3 separate regions of the Homo sapiens genome follow, and regions 1 and 3 are each reported to be linked to region 2. The links are microRNA targets in miRTarBase. Many come from high-throughput screens and were not tested one by one. Region 2 holds a microRNA gene; each other region holds the end of a gene's coding sequence.
Evidence for each region. The annotated mature microRNA hsa-miR-3145-5p reads AACUCCAAACACUCAAAACUCA and lies in region 2 at 2,978-2,999, opposite strand. An mRNA with a match to its seed (bases 2 to 7 or 8) in the 3' UTR can be bound and repressed. Matches are read on the target gene's strand: a 7mer-m8 pairs with bases 2 to 8, a 7mer-A1 pairs with bases 2 to 7 and ends in A, and an 8mer does both.

Region 1 (4,243 bases), not on the chromosome of region 2:
GGGGACAGCTTCACAGACTCAACTTTACCCTAAAAATGGTCCCAGGAAGGTAGACATCGAAAATACCAGTGTGAACTGGACAATCTTTCCCTATCAGAGACCACAAGTTTATAGGCTAAGCTGGGTGACAGGGAGACCACCATGACCAACTAGACTTTCTAAGTGTTAACACTGAAACAGCCCACATCAGGGAAGCCCTTCAGTTCTAGGCAAACCAAAAGGGTTTGTCACCCTAGGTAGAAACCGCCTAAGTCTCCCATTAGGAGTGAGCAGTCAAACACAGTTATTCTCTTCCAAATGCTTCCACCCTGTTGGGATTTCACAACCATCTACTGGTGCATGCCACTCCTGGAAGCCAAAAACAAAGCTGGCAATAAGGAATGACCTGCAACATGTTCCCTGGAAAGACCCAGGCCACCGGCACATTTAAGGAGAAAGCTAGAAAGAGACTCTGCCCCTTTCACTTTATTGGGAACTCGGCCTTGAAGCTTCATGTTAGCTGAAAATAGCTAACCCCACATTGTGGATTCCCTGTTCCCATAATTACCCCTTTTTTGAAGTGGGGCGTTCCATGGTGGGGGATGACCTGACATGCTTATCTTTCTCACGCCCAGGGCATCAACTGGTACCATTGGAAAGGCCATGAGTTCTCCATCCCCTTTGTGGAAATGAAGATGCGCCCCTACAACCACCGTCTCATGGCAGGGAGAAAACGGCAGTCCTTACAGTTCTGAGCAGTGGGCGGCTGCAAGCCAACCAATATTTTCTGTCATTTGTTTGTATTTTATAATATGAAACAAGGGGGGAGGGTAATAGCAATGTGTTTTGCAACATATTAAGAGTATGTGAAGGAAGCAGGGATGTCGCAGGAATCCGCTGGCTAACATCTGCTCTTGGTTTCTGCTGCCCTGGAGCCTGACCCTCAGTCTCCATTCTCCCTCCTACCCAGGCCTCCTCAACCTTCACCTCCTTTCCCACCAAGGAGGAGAAGTAGGAAGTTTTCTTAAAGGGCCAATTCAAAGCCAAGTCGTGGGGTGCAGATTGTTATGGTGACAGGCACACACATTTTTCTACCCTTCTTCTGAGATGTCCTCTGCCTTCCAGGTATTTGTGATTTTGTCACAGCCTGACATGGCCAGGTTCTCACACTGGCCCAGAGAAAAGAGCCTCAGCAAGAGAGTTTTGCCAACAATTCCCCTTAAAAGGAAACAGATCAACTACACCGCATCCCAACAACCCAGGTTCTTTTCCTTCCTTCCTTCCTTCCTCCCTTCCTTCTTTCCTGCCTTCCCTCCTTCCCTCCTTTCTTTCTTGACAGTATCTCACTCTTGCTCAGTCTGGAGTGCAGTGGTGCAATCTCAGCTCACTACAGCCTCGACTTCCTGAGCTTAAGTGATCCTCTCGTCTCAGCCTCTTGAGTAGCTGGGACTACAGGCATGAGCCACCATACCTGGCTGATTTTTCTTTTATTTTTTGTAGAGATGGGGGTCTCACTGTGTTGTCCAGGCTGGTCACAAACTCCTGGCCTTGAACAATCCTCCCACCTCAGCCTCCCAAAATGCTGGGATTACAGGCTACAGCCACTGCATCCAGCCCCAAGTCCTTTATAATGGGCCAAAGATTCTCATCTTCTGACACTCTTATTATACCAGCCACATGTCCTGTTACCTTTCAAGAACAGTGGCTCTTTTCTGGCCCTGATGGAGTCTTTTGCCTAATCCCATCCTGTCTTAGACCCCAGAGCCTCAAAAGCCCAACCAGCATTTTGGAATCTAGTTCCCAAGGCATTGCCTGCTCCTGGCCCTGGGTGGCACAGTGGCTATGTGCCTGTGAGTCATCAGCCACTGCCCCCACCCTCAGGTCAGACAGACAGTCACTTTCTGCAAAGGTAGGAGGGGGAGATGGTTGTAGTTTTTAGCACTTTTGGGTCAAGCATTGAGGAAAGGACTGAAGAAGTCAAAATCAGGGCACTGCCATAGAGATTATAGTTTCCATGGGAAACACAGATCTTCCCTAGCCCTGTTTTCTCCATTTCTGGTCCTATTTGTCACAGATTCTTTTTTTCTGAATTGCAAACCGAAGGCCTCATATCTATCTTCACCCAAGCCCTCCTTAGTGTAGGTGGCTTAATAAGAGTCAGGAGAAGAAGGTATATGCCCAGAGAGCTATACCCCTGACTGATAATCCTGGAAAGAGGTTGATTTTTTTTTTCTTTTTTGGTCCTATGGGAAACAGGAATGACCTTCTTAATGAGGTGAGATCATGAGAAGCCTTTCCATCTTCTTTTATTATTCTGCCTTGCAAAGGAAAAATGACAATAGCCAAAGGAAATTACATCCAGAAATCCAAAGGTGAATAGGTGATAACTGTGGGCCTACTTCCCATTTTATGAGATGCACTGTCTTCACTAGCACAATTTGATCTTAAGCCCAAGAGAGCTAGATGCTCTAGAAGCCGTGACCTTTCAATTTCTCCTCCAAATCCAATATCAGCAACCATCCCCGCAACATCTGCCCAGATCCATGCCCAGTTCCCTGAGCTGTCTTCTCCCTTTCCTCTCCCATTCCTCAAGGCCCAGCACCATTTTCTGTAGTGCCTATGTTTGTCTGACCAGAGCAGTGTGTACCTTTGCCAACCAGTTACTGGATGAGCCTTAGTGTCGGCAATTTTCTAATGGAAATATCCTCACTCTTACCAAGCTTTGAGAACCAAGATGAAAAGTCCCTTGGGCTGACCATCAGGCCTCGGACCTCATGGGGATGCAGCCAGCCACCATTGAATGGAGGCGCTTCCCTTGCCGCAGGCTTCTAGGCTTTGTTCACTGCGGCAGTGTGGATGTGACAGGCATAACCCTGAAAAACCTAGGCACCACTTGCATTTCTCAGTTAACCATGGGCTTCAACAAACTGGGAGGAGGAAAAAACAGAAACAGATCCTTTCAACAAGCATGTAAATTACAGAAGACTTACCTAGAGACGGGGCAACAATGAATAGTAGGAAGCACATTGCATGGGAAACTTGAGGGCCGAGGTACAGGCCAACAGCTGTCATCTTAGCTACGACATGACATCGGCTGGGTTGTTTCACCTCTCTGGGCCAGTTTCTTCATCTGTCAGATGAGAGATTAGACTAGAATGAGTTCTAATTTCCCTTTCAGTTTTGACGGTCAATGATGCTAATCTGTGATCTGAAAACCTAAGTAGAAATTGGCATGGTGGGACAGCACAATTAGGTAATGAAAATTCACTAGACTCCCTGTTTAATGAGGAAAGAAGGAAAGAAGGAAGGAAGGAAGGAAGGAAAGAAGGAAGGGGAGGGAGGGAGGGAAAGAAAAGAGAGAGATTGATTCAGGAGTCATAAGTAAAACACACACACACACACACACACACACACGAAAATACTGCAGAAAAGATCATGCCGAGTGAGAGGCTGAACTCTTTTTGTCCATAAAAACAGAGACCAGGTACCTGGGTGGTGCCAGCACGCCCACTTCATCAAGGAAGTTGAAATGGAAAAAGATTATGTGTTGTCAATTCAGGTGAAAGTCAAGAAACATCAGTGGAAACAAAAATCTTCCTTTTATTGAAACCATTCTACACTATGGAACATTTTTATAAATAGTACCAGCGGCATTGCATAGCTTTATTTTGAAGCAAGAAAGAGACTTCAAAGATCAGCTTATTCAACCCTCTATAAAAGGATTTATAGATTCCTTTTATTTAATAGGGTGATTTTCTCATGAGTTTTCACCATGTTTAAAAGACACTGTGCCCCACTCTCATCCCAAGGTCTATGGTCAACTTGACTCAATGCTCATAACTTTCCTCGCTGATTCCTGCTTATCCTGCTCCTCCAAGCACAACTGCATTTCCCAAAGGTAGATCCAGTAAGCAATACTCTCAAAGCACCCACCCTATGCACACCAGTTTCCCTCAAGGGACTCAAAAGGAATCGAGGTAGACCCTTCTCAGAGGCTGTTTAACTACAGACACATCAGGATATGTACTAATACCCAAAACCAAAACCACCACCAATGACTGCAATAGATTCACTGTCTAGACCCAAGGTCCAGGCAGTTTCCCTTTTTTGCATTTCCCCAACATATAAAGATAATTTCCAACATATCAGATGCACATTCACCAGGGTTATTTCTGGAAGGTGAAGGGGTCAGGTGTAGAAGAGGTGGCAAGAATGACAAGTCTGTGGAAAACTGTTGGCCTTGAGACCACAGTGAACTGGTGGA
Region 2 (4,243 bases):
TTCTTGGGAATCCTGCGGAGGGAGTCTGTCCGGGAGGGTGGCAGGGGAGGCTTCTTTGCTTTCTTCAAAGAGATGTTTCTTGATAGGGATTTATCCTGGTAATTGGACCGGTCCCCTTGGTTTTTCTGAGCTCTTCCAACAAAAACATTGATCACGCTGTGCCTGGGGTTCCCAAAGCCATCACTGCTATTGCACAGATTCCCAGATCCATGTCCAGAGTCAGTGTGCACAGATGCACAGTAGCCATCGTGGTCCTCAGAATACAGCGACCCAGCATCCTCTTTGTTGGACGTTTGGTCCAAACTGCAGCTGCTCATGTTACTTGTGGGAGTGGAATAGCCAGGAGTTGCTAAATGCGGCTTCAGGGGGGATGCCCTTCCATTACCTGAGGATTTGTATTCCCAGGGCTCCGAGCTGCTGTGCCCTCCGCCCCCTGAATAACTAGATTCACTCTTGCCATCCACATCTTGGGGGTGGGCTGGGAAGGCCAGGTTGTTTCTACAATTATACGGCATAGCTTGGGACCCATTCTCCCTATTTGCTGGAGCATTTAGAGGGACGGCTGAGTCACAGAGGGACAACAGTGCGGGTTCACCAGGGGAATGAGGGTCTAAGTCCTGTGAAAGAATGGTGGCATGGCCCTCATTCCAGTGGCGACCGGGAGACTGAGGATCACCTTTCACAGCATGCCTGGAGATGAGGTGGTCTCTGGATTTTATCCTTGCATGTGATGAGCCAGAACTTTTACTTTCCCGCTGTCCCGCACTCTGAGCAGTGGGAATAGCGATGACCTCGGAAGAGGAAGACAGTGTGGCATTTGGGATGATGCTGGTGGAGTAGGTTGCATGAGGAGAAACCACACACGCTGGGCTCATTATATTTTCACTCTCGAAGTGTCTCAACTCCTGGGATTTGGGTCTCAAAAGTGTTCCAGTCCCTGAGGCACCTCCTAAATGGCCTAAGTTTTCATCTGCTTGTGGGTGACCTCTCTGGTAGAGGAAAGTGCCATTCATGTCTCCTGCAGGGCCGAGGGCACCCAGCCTCGGCTCAAGGGACTGAATGTTTGCCCTTGCTCCAGAACGCGGAAGACTATGGAAGCCAGCATCACTGTCAAGGCGGGAAGGGAATACGATCCCTGCAGAATCGCTCAGCACAGACATGTTGCCAGAGGAACCTGAGAAGTGGCCCATCTGGGCAGCAATGCCTTGCCCCTTCTGTGCCCTGATTCTCCTCATGGAAGGTGGTACGACCTTCACATCCTCCGTCTGACAGCTGGAGTCCCTGGTTTCTGAGCGCTGCCCAGCAGACCGACAGCTATTGAACCTTCCTAGTGTAGAGTAGTGATCAGGGGTGTACACTGAGTGGCCATCAGCATCATCTTGGCCAGTGCCTGATGCTGGAGATAAAGCAGAAAGAGGCTTGTTACCTGAAAATAAAATCCATAGTTCATCACGTGTACCCTCACCCCTCTGACAGAATTTTAAAAAAATTTTTCTATTTGATTTAATTTCCTTTCTCCTGTAGGTATCTAAGTACATTTAAAAAGTTACTGATAGCTCTAAAATGAAAATTATTGTCATGAATGTCAGGTACTTCTCTTAATTTGTACCTCCAATCCTCCTATGGCTTGAGTGCTGCGTATGGAATTCTCAGGGTATCCCTTCAAGATCAAGGCTGCCAAGGGCTCAGAGGAGGATTTACTTTGAAATAATCACCTTTCAGTAAAGTCTTCAAGGTAGCCTTTCGCCCACTGGGTGACTGTGCAGACCATCTATCAAGCAGTGACACATCTTTCCCAAAGGTAGATGAATGTAGTAATTGAACAATAGGGCCACAGAGATACCATATTTGAGGGGTACTGGTATAAAACAGTGTTAATTACATTAATTCTTTATGTCAGAAGGAAATTCTAAGGCAAAGAAAATTGATTTACAGGCCCATCTGTGTTCCAAACATTTCATTATCCATCTGAAGCCATTATCTGTCTGTTGGTGACATTCAAAATTCAACAGCAATCTGTTGTGTTCTAGTTGGGGAAACTGGCAGGAACTGATCCAGTGAACATTTCCTCAAATTAGGATGATTTATTCGTTGGAGTTTTACAACCAAACAGAGAATAGTATGTTAAAAAAAAAAAAAGACAGAAAGAAAGAAACACAAGGAAGGGCCAACAGAGAGGGACGTGGACGAGGTAAACTTTAAGTGTAAACAGTTAGATTTCAAGCTACCCAGGAAAGAACAGAGCTTATGAGAAAAAAGAAAAAAAATCACAAAGACAAGAACCTACCCAAAGTGTACTGAGAAAAAAAAAAGTCAATCCTTAAGACAAATCGAATCTCTAAAAATAGTAGTAAAACTATAGTTCTCCCTATGTTATCTCCATCCAACAAGGACCCAAAAGTATCTATCTCAACACGGGCTTTGCTGAGCAATGCGAGTCAAGCACACCCCTCTGTGTCAGTGGACACCTGGATGCGACCCTAGGACTGATGGGGTTTCTAAGGCTTCCCTCTCCCAACACATAATCTAACCAGGGCATGGACTGGATATAGGATGCCTTTTGCTCACTCAGATAGCAGAGGGTAGTACTGAAATGGCAGCACTGTGCTTGTATCAACCTCAAAGGAGATGGCACCCTGGAAGGAAGGATCCCAGCATAAAGCCTTCTCCTTCACTGTGATGATGGAGAGGAATTTTTATACTTGTATTTTTAGCGAAGATGATCTATTTCCTCTCTCTACCCTCTTTCAAGTACTCACTCACTGAAGACAGATAGACAGACACATACACACACACGAGGCTGTCCCACACAGAGAGGGAAATGGGCAAAAGGGCAGGACAGAAGAAAAACCCACTTTGAGGAAGTGCAAAATTTTGCCATTTAGTAATTTAGAAGATGGGAAGTTGACTGGTATCGGTGTATCAGTGTATACGAGTTCAATTCCAAACACTCAAAATATCTCATTCCATTCAACAATGAGTTTTGAGTGTTTGGAGTTGAACTCATATAAACAAATACATTTTTTTTCCTTTCAAAATTGTACTAGTTTTTGCATGGAGTTAGTGGTAGATTTTTAACTGTCTTTAAGTAGCATAAACAAAATCCTGATACTTTTGGGTAGCAGTTTTAAATGTGAAACCATTCTAGGCATGTAAAAAAAAATAGAAATACAGCTATTTTATCACCCTCTAGAGCTAAGTATAACTTTCTTATTAAAACAAAAACATTTCCTAAAGACCTTAAAAAGCATATGAAAAAACTCATATATCTTATCACAAGGACCACCAAAATTCTATTCCCAAAACAGACCCTCCAATATTTTCACAGTATAAAAAGTTTCAGAATATGATAGGAAACAGATGAATGCTATAGATGCATACGTCGTTTTACTGTGCTTAGCTTTATTGTGCATTGCAGATAACTGGGGTTTTTTTTTTTGTTTTTTTGTTTTTGTTTTTTTTTTTACAAGTCGAAGGTTTGTGGCAACCCTGTGTTGAGCAAGTCTATTGATGCCATTTTTCTAACATGCTTACTGTGTGTCTGTGTGTCACGTTTTGGTAATTCTTGCAATATTTCAAACTTTTTCATTATTATTAGATCTGTTACGGTGATCTGTGACCAGTGATCTTTGATATTACTATTGTAATTGTTTTGGGGGTGCCACAAATCACACCCACATAAGATAGCAAATATAATTGATATATGTTGTGTGTGTTCTGACTGCTCCACTGACCAGCTGTTTCCCAGTTTCTCTCCCTCTTCTTGGGCTTCTCTATTCCCTGAGATACAACAATAATGAAATTAGGTCAATTAATAACCCTACAATAGCCTCTAAGGGTTCAAGCGAAAGGAAGAGTTGCATGTCTCTCACTTTAAATCAAAAGTTAGAAATGATTAAGCTTAGTGAGGAAGGCATGTCAAAAGCTAAGATAGGCCAAAAGCTAGGCCTCTTGTGCCAAACAGTTAACCGAGCTGTGACTGCAAAGGAAAAGTTCTTGAAGGAAATGAAAAGTGCTACTCCAGAACATACACAAATAAAAAAACAGCTTTATTGCTGATATGGAGAAAGTTTTAATGGTCTGGACAGAAAATCAAACCAGCCACAACATTCCCCTTAAGCCAAAGCCTAATCAAGGCCCTAACTCTCTTCAATTCTGTGAAAGCTGAGAGAGGTGAGGAAGCTATAGAAGAAGAGCTGGAAGCTAGCAGAGGTTGTTTCATGAGGTTGAAGGAAAGGAGCCA
Region 3 (4,216 bases), not on the chromosome of region 2:
TTCTCTCTCTCTCTCTCTCTCTCTCTGTTTCTCCATCCATCCACCTACCTACCTTTTCTCCGTTGTCTTTTAAATAATGTATATTACCAAAAAAAACACCTTTTCTGCAGAGGAACTTAATCACCAAAACTGATGCTTGAGGTGTTTTGTTTTCTTCCACTCTCATGTTAAGATTTTTTCTATTTCAGAAATTAACCCTGCAGCATGTGAACAGTAATCAGTGCCTGGATAAAGCCACAGAAGAGGATAGCCAGGTGCCCAGCATTAGAGACTGCAATGGAAGTCGGTCCCAGCAGTGGCTTCTTCGAAACGTCACCCTGCCAGAAATATTCTGAGACCAAATTTACAAAAAAACGAAAAAAATAAGGATTGACTGGGCTACCTCAGCATACATTTCTGCCACATTCTTAAGTAGCAAAAAAGGAAAAGTGCTTTCCTCCTCTGCAGGATGTAAGGTTTATCAGCCATTAAAACTTAGACTTCTCTAGCTTTTCACTAGCTGTGAACCAGCCTTCCTGTCCATGGACGTGAAACTGCATAGTAATGAGACTGTGCACACTGATGTTTACAAGATTGAAAGAGTCTTTCTCCGAAAATCATGGTAAAGAATACTGAGACAATGAAAAAAAATCAACAAAATATGCTTTCTGGAGAACTGTACCTTTTATGGTTTGCTTGCACATCAGTAGTTTCTGCTGAACGTGCTGTCATAATGAAGAGATTTCCAAGATTTTTTTTCCTGATTAGAACTGGTAGCCAGTATATTAAATATTGATATAAAAATAAAAGAACTGGAACCAGATTCAGAATCATGAAAACAACATTTTTACAACAACAAAAAAACTATATTAAACAGGGTTTAAAGGAAATTAAAACAGAACTATGAGAAGTACAATTTGTTATAGTATAGTATCAAATTTCTATATAGATTTTATACCTCAGTGGGGAAAAATAACTGATTCCAATGACATTCATTTTGTTTTCATCTGTGATAGTCATGGATGCTTTTATTTTCCTTGGGGTGCTGAAATTGAGCTGAAAAAAAAAGGCTCTTTGAATATAGTTTTAATTTCTCTCTACAGTTTTTTTTGTTTGGTTTGTGGGCTGTTGGAATTGTAATTTTTAATTGCCTTCTAAAAAATGGAAATTTAACAATGTCTGATCTCAGCTGAACAAATTAGATGTTTCAGTTGCTCTTGGGTCAACTGGCTTACAGATTTACATGTGCACACACACACAAATTTCTTATCACATTTTCGACTTCTTCACTTGACCTAACTGATTATGCGAAATACCCAAGATTCATGCTACTGTACCACAGATTTGTTTTCACAGCAATAAATCTTCAGTTCTTTGTTTATGATTCCACTTAACAAAAGGCCTGCAGAAGTGATTTATTATTTGGGTATTTGGAGATAATACATTTGATGGTTTTTTGGAAAACCTTTTTCACTCCATACTCAGATATGCTTCATTGTCAAATGCATATTTAGATTAGATTATTGAATTGTAATGTTTATCTGCTGCTTTTTTTAAATAAAATTTGACTGAAAATGTTTAATTGGCATTTTTTAATGACTTAGCCAAAGAAGTGCAGCTATTATTCCATATTAATAGGCTTGCATTTCTTTTCCTAAATCTTATTTAGGCTAAATCAGTTTTATTTTTCTCTGATTTTTTTTAATACCACAGAATCACCTGAGTGTCAATTGAAAGTTGTCAATTAAAAGGTAACCTTTTAATCTCGTAGGAGGAATCTCATTAAGACATTTTTCCTGATATGTAGAGCAGTCTGTTGGCAAAAATGCATATATTTTCTTTCATATTTGTAAAATTATATTTAATGGAATTCTTTTCTTTGATTATCAAGGACTTTCACTGCAGGCAGTGCTATTTCTTGTGCCTAAGAATGTTTCCAAAAGTCGCATCGCTAATGATATTTGCCAAGTTGAGTGTACACAAAGTTTCTCATATCCTGTTCAAGTTAATCAACATCAAGCACATGGGGATGCTTTAGGGTGAGTCTATAGTACAAAATGCATAAACCATGTCCCCAGGAAATTTGAAAGGAAGCAGGTGCTGAATGGAATTTTTTTCCTTTTCCATGAGCTGTGTTAATTCTATCTCCAGTAGGCCTAATGCTTGAATAAGCAAGATGTCTAATCAATAAATTATTTTCATGCTCAGAATTTCAGGTTTTTGTACTCCAGCATAGCTTGGTCTTATTTCTTACTGTATGAAAGCTTAACAGCAATGTGATTTAAGGTTTTGTTTTAAATGGGAGATGTAAGTGATTTAATTCATGGGTACTTTTAGAACCTGATAGATAATCCCATTGCCTTTATTTTTCTAATTAAAGAATTCCTAAATACTTTGAAAATACAAAATATTCCTGAATAGTTGTGCCTTACATTGGTTTTATTTGAAGTTAGAGTGGATCCCTGTTTATCATAATTACTTGTAATTAGGCAGATGCTTATCACTCTATTATAACTCAAATTGGGAAGAAAAGAATGAAAAAGAAAACAATGGCTGGGTACTGGCTCATACCTGTAATTTTAGCATTTTGGGAAGGTGAGACGATAGGACCACTTGAGGGCAGGAGTTTGAGGTTGCAGTGAGCTATGATGGTGCCACTGCACTCCAGCCTGGGCAACAGAGAAGAAACCATGTATCTTAAAAAAAAAGAAAAAATGAAGGATGAAAAAGTGGGATTATTATTTAACCAGTGAAGAATTCATAAATGTGACAATTAAGGATAATTTGAATCTCACAAATCTATTCACCCCACCCCAGTCAAGGTCTATTTTAATATATCTATCTTCATTGGCATTCTTGAGAAATAGTGCTGCCATTGAACATTGGGAATATTCATCCATTCTGCAGATGGAGGACATCGTGCAGGCCATGTCCTCATTGCTCCCATTCTACATTTAGCTGAGAAACAGAGGTTCCTCTTTGTAAGGATTTGATGCTCTTCTCATCTTCCAAGAAGTATACCAAGAGCAAATTTAACTCTATAGTTACCTGTTCTTCAAAGAAAAAAGAAACTTAGAAGGTAGTGTTTCTGAGGTCATAACTGTGAGGGGTTGTATACAAAGAATGAGTCACTTTTTAAGCCATTTGGAAAATTAGATCTGTTTCTAATTAGATGACATTTTCTCCATTCTCTGATTTCCTGAAGATTGCCAAGCATTTGCTTGATAATCTACCAGGACTGATAATTTTGCAGAATATGAGGCAAATATATGAAATTCAGTTGTGTATCTATATCCTAGCAACAAACACTTGAAAATATAACGTTAAAATATGCCATTTGTAATAGCATCAAATAAGTCAAACTTCTAAGTAGGAAGAAAGTTAACAACAAGACCTCTACTCTGAAAACTACAAAACAGTGCTGGGAAGAATTATAGAGCACCAAAATAAATGGCTATTCTATGCTCATGGATTGAAAGACTGCATAATGGTAAGATGTCAGTTCCCCACAAATTGTTATCTAGATTCAATGAGATCAAAATCCCACAAGGCCATCTTGTAGAAATTGGCAAATACATATATGAAAATGCAACAGATTCTAAGTAGCCAAGATAATTTTGAAGAAGAAAAATAAAATTGGAGCACTTGTACTACCCAATGTCAAGACTTGCTCTAAAGCTACAACAGTTAAGAGAGTATGGTACTAGAGTTAGGATAAACAACAAATAGAAATAGACATGTCCAGAAATAGACCCACATGTATATGGTTATTGGCTTTTCAACAAAAACAAGCTATTCAATAGAAAAAGGGAAGATTTTTCAGTTGGAGTTGAAGTAACTGGATGTCTGGGAAAAAGCAATGTTAATAATGCCTTCTTCATACCATGCACAGTTTATTCAAAATGGATTATAGAACTAAATGTGAATGGCAAAACAATAAATCTTGTAAAAGGAAACCGACTATCTTCATGACATTGGGGTAGACAAGGATATCTTAGGCGAAGACATCTCAGGAAGGTTAAACAAAAAAACTGACAGATTTCATCAAAATTAGATACTTCTCATCAAAAAGATACTTTTAAAGTGAAAAGGCAAGCCACGGCCTAAGAGAAAATAATCACAATACACGGAACCAAAGGAAAGCAAAGAACATTTTAAAACCATTGTAACAGCAACCCAGTTTAACAATGAGTGAGTTGAATACATACTTCACAGAAGCTCTCCAGATGCAGGAGTA

Region 1: miRTarBase lists TNR as a target of hsa-miR-3145-5p. The part of its 3' UTR that is shown has no 7-base or 8-base seed match.
Region 3: miRTarBase lists GALNT1 as a target of hsa-miR-3145-5p. The part of its 3' UTR that is shown has no 7-base or 8-base seed match.

The regions. Positions count from the first base shown.
Region 1 is chr1:175,319,848-175,324,090 of GRCh38, reverse strand. It overlaps TNR (tenascin R), which reads left to right. Exons shown (of 23, transcript NM_003285.3): 23 at 615-4,243. The coding sequence ends at 734. LOC105371623 (a long non-coding RNA gene) reads right to left here. Exons shown (of 4, transcript XR_001738302.2): 2 at 2,970-3,109. Among named protein-coding and RNA genes, the nearest start is that of KIAA0040, 130 kb to the right of the region's middle.
Region 2 is chr6:138,432,285-138,436,527 of GRCh38, forward strand. It overlaps MIR3145 (microRNA 3145), which reads right to left and starts at 3,010; the gene lies at 2,929-3,010. It overlaps NHSL1 (NHS like 1), which reads right to left. Exons shown (of 8, transcript NM_001144060.2): 6 at 1-1,396.
Region 3 is chr18:35,709,436-35,713,651 of GRCh38, forward strand. GALNT1 (polypeptide N-acetylgalactosaminyltransferase 1) reads left to right here. Exons shown (of 12, transcript NM_020474.4): 12 at 189-2,399. The coding sequence ends at 335. LOC105372064 (a long non-coding RNA gene) reads right to left here. Exons shown (of 5, transcript XR_935377.3): 2 at 2,551-4,216. Among named protein-coding and RNA genes, the nearest start is that of MIR3975, 120 kb to the left of the region's middle.